2 linked regions of the Homo sapiens genome follow. The protein of the gene in region 1 interacts with the protein of each later gene in a pairwise test. Each region holds a gene or a part of one and is shown on either strand. Other genes may lie near its edges.

The links.
Region 2: the proteins of FMO1 (region 1) and SLC71A2 interact in binary tests that used the Homo sapiens proteins (3 or more experiments, as listed by UniProt).

Annotation. Positions count from the first base shown.
Region 1 is NC_000001.11:171,272,308-171,276,129, reverse strand, and holds part of FMO1 (flavin-containing monooxygenase 1), read right to left. Parts: intron 785-3,822; coding exon 622-784; intron 1-621. UniProt on the Homo sapiens protein: Broad spectrum monooxygenase that catalyzes the oxygenation of a wide variety of nitrogen- and sulfur-containing compounds including xenobiotics.
Region 2 is NC_000009.12:94,380,814-94,384,635, reverse strand, and holds part of SLC71A2 (hippocampus abundant transcript-like protein 1), read right to left. Parts: intron 1-3,822.

The sequences.
Region 1 (3,822 bases):
ACCATTTCATTTTCTGTTCCATTGAGTTAAAATCCAGTTAAAATTTGGCATAGATTAACATGACTATGGTTGCAAAAGGCCGATAAGAAAACTGAGACCCAAAGATGTCTTAAGTTGTCTCCCAAGACTAATCTCCCTCTTGACTATTGACCAGTGCCGTAAACCTCTAATCTAATTGCTATCACTCACATAAGAGGAACAAATAGAAAAAATTACTTTTTTCTTTTTTCACAGATTGACTTTTGTGGCCTCTAAACTCAACTTTGGCAATGTGTACCTGCTGCTGAAGTTAATGACTTGTGTAAGCATCCCATGTCTCAGAAGACTTTCTGAGTGCTACCAGTCACTTGAGGGACATTGAATCTTGGTAAAGCATAAAAATACTTATAAAGTTATCCATTTTGCTCTTATGTATTCACAGATTGTTTGGAACAAATGAAAGCCAAAAACTGGCCAGAAAATGCTGGCTAGAAAAAAACAAAACAAAACAAAAAAAGCCTCCTCCTACCTCCCAACTTTAACTATTTAATGGAACAGCCATAGGAATTCATTCCCAGACCAATCAAGCATCAGAATGGCTCCCACGAGAAAACTTAAAGTTAGTTACAGAAAATGCTGTACCTGGAAAGGAATCCAGTGGCAAATAAGGATTAGTAAGAAAGCCAGTGCAGACCATGACAGCATCAAAGATGGCTGACTCTTGCTTCTCTTCATGCATAGTGACCACCTCCCATTGGCCAGAGACAGCAGAATCTGAGCATTTTGTTACACTGCAGACTTTGGTCTGAAAAAAGAATCACAGATATGATTAGCAGTTGTCAATGTTCCATTAAGCACTTGCCAGTTGATGTACCATTGATATTTTAAAAGTTCTAGAACACAGAATAAACATAATTAATAAGTATAACCCTAGAAACCTAATCAGGTTACCGGACTAATCATGATTCCCTAGATGGAGGTAGTCTAAGCTTGGAGAGATATCTAAGACAAGTGGTGGCATCCAAAAATTTTAAGTGATTTGCTCAAATTCTCACAGAAAGTGACAGAATCAGAATTAGAACCTAAGTTTCTGATGCCTTTTTCATTATCCTTTCTGTTATGCAACCTCATTTCTCACAGGGCTGTCTCTTTAACAAAAATTTCTTTGACAGATACATGGGTAAGATATAATTGAAAACCTGAATTTGGTCCTGTGTATATTAGCTTATGAGGTTTTATAGAATATGTTGCTGAAGTTTTTCCAGAACTAGAAAGCAATTGAAAAGTGCTAACATTATGGCCTGAATTTTTTTGAGAGTAGTCCACATTTCAAAGAATCTATTTTTTGCTCTTAGTGAGTACATACATGTCCATGATTACCAGGCTTTGGTTCAGGAAATATATGTACAATAAATCTCAGACAAGTCAAATTTAAAAGGATAAATTATTCACTCACCAAGTGGCTTGCTATCTTTCTTTCTTTTTTAAAGTTTTTAAAGAATATAGGCTTCTTAAGTCCCTCTTAATGGGTTCGCTATTTGATTTATACTATTTGAAGTGCTTATTGTGTTTCTACATTTGTAGTGCAACTGTCTTTTCTAAAAGTAAATTTTCAGTTAGTTTAAAATCTTTCAAAATAGATTTATTTTTAATCATAAAAATAATAAATATGTAGCCTGGGCAACATGGCAAAATCCCATCTTTACAAAAAAAATACAAAAAATTACCCAGGTGTGGTGGCCCATGCCTGTAGTCCCAGCTACTCAGGAGGCTGATTTGGGAGAATCACCTGTGCTTGGGAAGTCAAGGCTTCAGTGAGCCATGATAGTGTCATTGCACTCCAGCCTGGGCAACAGAGTGAGACCTTGTCTCAAAAAAAAAAAAGCTTGTCATTAAAAATTTGGAATATATACAGAGGAATGAGAAGCAAAACCAAACAAAATCAACTACAGATCACAGCTGAGTAATAGCTATTTGTGTTTACTTTTTTTTTTTTTTTTTTGAGATGGAGTCTCGCTCTGTTGCCCAGGCTGGAGTGCAGTGGTGCAATCTCGGCTCACCGCAATCTCCGCTTCCCTGGTTCAAGAGATTCTCCTGCCTCAGCCTTCTGAGTAGCTGAGACTACAGGCCCATGCCACCATGGCTGGCTAATTTTTTGTATTTTTAGTAGAGATGGGGTTTCGCCGTGTTAGCCAGGATGGTCTTGATCCACCCACCTTGGCCCCCCAAAGTGCTGGGATTACAGGTGTGGGCCACTGCACCTGGCCTTGTGTTTACTTTTTAAAACTTTGGTGAACATCTAGCTTTTTAAAAATTGTTCTAAAATGGCCTTGTGCCTGGCAACAGTGGCTCATGCCTATAATCCCCACCCTTTGGGAGGCCAAGGCAGGAGGATAGCTTGAGCTCAGGAGTTCAAGACCACCCTGGGCGGCATAGTGAGACCTTATCTCTACTAAAAATTAAAAAAAATATAGCCAGGCATGGTAGTATGTGCCTATAGTCCCAGCTATTAATAGTGGGGAGGCTGAAGTGGGAGGATTTCTTGAGCCTAGGAGGTGGAGGCTGCAGTGAGATAAGATCCTGCCACTGTACTCCAGCCTGGGTGACAGAAACTTTGTTTCAAACAACAACAACAAAATAAAAAAGGTCTTGGGCAGCATGTGGTAAAGGAAATGCTTCAAATTCAGAAATTTTGATGCATTAAAAAGAAGATTTTTATATGTTGTATATATTCATTATGATAATGCTTTATTTTTACTGTGTCCATTGCAAAATAAGGAAGTGGAATAAAATACTCTTTGGAAATCTGTTTAGGAGGATGTATTAGTCCATTTTCACACTGCTGATAAAGACAGACTAGAGACTGGGCAATTTACAAAGGAAAAAGGTCTAATGGAGAACTCACAGTTCCATGTGGCTGGGGAAGCATCACAATCATGGCAGGAGCAAAGAGGAGCAAGTCATATCTTACATGGATGATGTCAGGCAAAAAGAGAGCTTGTGCAGGGAAATTCTGCCTTATAAAACCATCAGATCTTGTGAGACTTATTCACTATCACTAGAACAGCATGGGAAAGACCTACCCTCATGATTCGGTTACCTCCCACTGGACCCCTCTCACAACATGTGAGAATTCAAGATGACATTTGAGTGGGGACACAGACAAACCATATTACTCTACCCCTGGCCCATCCCAAATCTCATGTCCTCACATTTCAAAAGCAATTATGCCTTCCCAACAGTTCCCCCCCAAGGTCTTAACTCATTTCAGCATTAACTCAAAAGTCCACAGTCCAAAGTCTCAACTGAGACATGGCAAGTCCCTTCCACCTATGAGCCTGTAAAATCAAAAGTTGGTTAGTTACTTCCTAGAAACAGTGGGGGTACAGGCATTGGGTAAATACAGCCATTCCAAATGGGAGAAATTGGTCAAAACAAAGGGGCTACAGGCCCCATGCAAGTCCGAAATCCAGCAGGGCAGTCAAATCTTAAAGCTCCAAAATGAACTCCTTTGACTCCATGTCTCACATCCAGGTCACACTGTTGCAAGAGGTGGGTTCCCATGGTCTTGGGCAGCTCTGCTCCTGTGGCTTTGCAGGGTACAGCTTCCCTCCTGGCTGCTTTCACAGGCTGGCATTGAGTGTCTGCAGCTTTTCCAGGCACATGCAAGCTGACAGTGGATCTAACATTCTGGGGTCTGAAGGATGGTGGCCCTCTTCTCACAGCTCCACTAGGCAGAGCCCCAGTAGAGACTCTGTGTGGGGACTCTGACCCCACATTTCCCTTCTGCACTGCCCTAGCAGAGGTTTTCCATGAGATCCCTGCCCCTGCAGCAAACTTCTG
Region 2 (3,822 bases), on another chromosome or scaffold:
AGGAATGGAGGCTCATGCCTGTAATCCCCGCACTTTGGGAGGCCAAGGCGGGTGTATCACTTGAGCCCAGGAGTTTGAGACCACCCTGGGTAACATGACAAAACTGCAACTCTACAAAAAATACAAAAATTAGCTGGGCCTGCTCGTGCGCGCCTGTACTCTCAGCTACTTGGGAGGCTGAGGTGGGAGGATCGCCTGAGCCTGGGGAGGTCGAGGCTCCACTGAGCCGTGATCATGCCACTGCACTCCAGCCTGAGCAACAGAGAGAGAGACCATGTGTCCAAAAAAAAAAAAAAAAAGGAAAATTTGACACACGGCACACATGGACAAACCTTGAGGACATTATGCAAGATGAAATAAGTCAATCACAAAAAGATAAGGATGAATATGGTATGATTCCATATATATGAGGTATCTAAAGTAAGTCAAACACATAGAAACAAAGGAGAATGGTGGTTGTCAGGGAATGGGAGGATGGCAAAAAATGGAGTTGTTGTTTCATGGGTATAGAATTTGTTTTGAAAGAAGAAGTAGTTCTGGAAATTGGCTGCAGAACAATGTGAATATACTTACACTACTGAAGTCTACACTTAAGAATGGTTAAGATGGTAACTTCTTTGCTATGTGTATTTTACCACAATTAAACAATTTTTTAAAAATCAACCGTATTTCTATATGCTGGCAACAAACAATTGTGAATTTAAATTTTAAAAAATTACATTTATGTAATGATACCATTTACAATAACGTCAAGAAATATGAAACGGAATAATCTGACAAAAGATGGGAAAGACATGTCAACTGAAAACTACAAAACTCAGCTGAAAGAAATTACAGATCTAAAATAAATGGAGAGATACTACATTCATGCATCAGAAGACTTGATCAATTCTTTCCAAACAGATCTTCACGGCAAAAGAATACCAATAACAATCCCAAAAGGCTTTCTTGTGGAAATTGCCAGGCTAATTCTAAAATGCAAAGACCCAGAATCACTAAAACGACTTTAAAAAATAACAAGATTGGGGGACTGTTAGTTTTCAAGTCTTATGAACCTCCAGTAATCAAGACTGCAGGGTACTGATGTAAAGACAAATAGATCAAAGGAACAGAATAAAGAGTTCAGAGACTGACTAATATATGGACAATTGATTTTTGACAAAGATGCAAAAGTAGACCAGGCATGGTGGCTCACACCCATAATCCCAGCACTCTGGGAGGCCAAGATGGGTGGATAACGAGGTCAGGAGTTCGAGACCAGCCTGGCCAACATGGTAAAACCCTGTCTCTATTAAAAATACAAAAATTAGCCAGGTGTGGTGGCGTGCGCCTGTAATCCCAGCTACTCAGGAGGCTGAGGCAGGAGAATCGCTTGAACCTGGGAAGTGGAGGTTGCAGTGAGCCGAGATTGCGCCACTGCACTCTAGCATGGGCGATGGGACAAGACGCCATCTCAAAAAAAAAAAAAAAAAAAGATGTAAAAGCTATTCAATGAATAAAAACATATTTTTCAGCAAATGAACAACTGTTCATAAACAAATAATTTCCATCCTTATTTTGCACCATATAAAAATGTAATCAAAATTAAACACAAACCCAATTGTAAAATCTAAAACTATAAAGCTTCCATAAACATAGAAGGAAGGCCAAGCACAATGACTCACGCCTGTAATCCCAGACTTTGGGAGGCCGAGGCAGGTGGATCACGAGGTCAGGAGATTGAGACCATCCTGGCTAGCGCGGTGAAACCCCGCCTCTACTAAAACTGCAACTCTACTAAAAATACAAAAAATTAGCCAGGCGTGGTGGCGGATGCCTGTAGTCCCAGCTACTCGGGAGGCTGAGGCAGGAGAATCGCTGGAACCCGGGAGGCAGAGATTGCAGTGAGCTGGAGATTGCAGTGGGCAGAGATTGTGCCACTACACTCCAGCCTGGGCGACAAAGAAAGAGACTCCGTCTAAAAAAAAAAGAAAAAATAGAAGGAAATTCCTATGATTTGGGATTAGGCAACAATTTCTTAAATATGAAACCAAAACCCTGATCTATAAAAGAGCAAATTGATAAATTTCATCAAAATTTAAAATTCCTGTTCTTCAAGACACTGCTGAGAGAATGAAAAGATGGACCACGGCCTAGAGAGAATGTATTTGCAAATCATTTGACGAGGGACTTGCATCCCAAATATGTAACGAATTCTCAAAACTCAATTACAAGAAAACAACCAACCAACAACAACAACAAAAAATAGGCAAAAGACAAGAACAGACACTTTGCCAAAAGGGATATACAGAAGACATATAAGTTTAGGGAAGTTGGGCACATGGCTCACACCTGTAATCCCAGCACTTTGCGAGGCTGAGGCAGGTGGACGACTTGAATCCAGGAGTTCAAGACCAGTCTGGGCAACATAGTAAGACCCCATCTCTATAAAAAATTAAAAAATTAGCTGGGTATGGTGGCATATGCCTGTAGTCCCAGTTACTCGAGAGGCTGAGGTGGGAGAATTACCTGCGCCCAGGAGGTCAAGGCTGCAATGAGCCAAGATCACGCCACCGCACTCCAGCCTGGGCAACCAAAGTGAGACTCTGCCGGAGGAGGAAAAAAAAAAAAACTTATGGAAAGATACTGAATGCCACTAGCCATAGGGAAGCACAAATTAAAAGAACAATGAGACATCACTAAAGACCAATTGGAAGGGCTAAAATTGGCCAGGTGTTGGTAAGGATATGGATGAACTAGAATTATCATACAGTGCTAGCTGCAATGTACAACTGTACAATTACTTTTAAAATAATTAGTTTGGCAATTTATTTTATTTTATTATTTTTTTAAAGACGGAGTCTTACCATGTTGCCCAGGCTGGTCTCAAATCCCTGGGCTCAGGCAATCCTCCTGCCTCGGCCTCCCAAAGTGCTGGGATTACACGCATGAGCCACCATGCCCAGCCAACAGTTTCTTAAAAAGTTAAATACATCTACCATATGACCCAGCCATTTCACTCCTATTTACTTTTAAAAAAGTGTATTCTGTACAAAGATTGGCACACAGATGTTCACAGCAGCTTTATTTGTAATAGCCAAAAACTGGTGAGAAGCCGAAAGTCCATCAACAAGGGAATGTACAAATCGTGGTTCATCCACAAATGGACTACTACTCAGTAATTAAAAAGAATGAACTACCGATTTACATAACACTGATAAATCTCAAAATAATTTATGCTGAACTTTTTAAAAGCCAAAGAGGAGAATATGCTGTATTTATAAAATAACAAAAAAAAAAAAAAGCTAGAAAATTCAAACCAGCTGGGGGCAGTAGCTCACGCCTGTAATCCCAGCACTTTGGGAGGCCGAGGCGGGCGGATGGTCTGAGGTCGGGAGTTTGAGACCAGCCTGACCAACATGGAGAAACCCCGTCTCTACTAAAAATACAAAATTAGCCTGGCATGGTGGCGCATGCCTGTAATCCCAACTACTTGGGAGGCTGAGGCAGGAGAATCACTTGAACCCAGGAGGCGGAGATTGTGGTGAGCCGTTATCACGCCATTGCACTCCAGCCTGGGCAACAAGAGTGAAACTCCATCTCAAAAAAAAAAAAAGGGGGAAGAAAATTCAAGCCAATATATAGTGACAGAGTAGATAAATTATCGCCTGGAAATGGAGGTGTAGAGGGAGGTAAAAAGAAACATTTGAGGGTGATGAATATGTTTACTATCTTGATTATGATAATGGTTTCACAGGTGTATAGATATGTCACAACACAAAACTGTGCACTCCAAACACACAGTTTATTTTATGTCAATTAAACTGAATAAGGTTGTTTAAA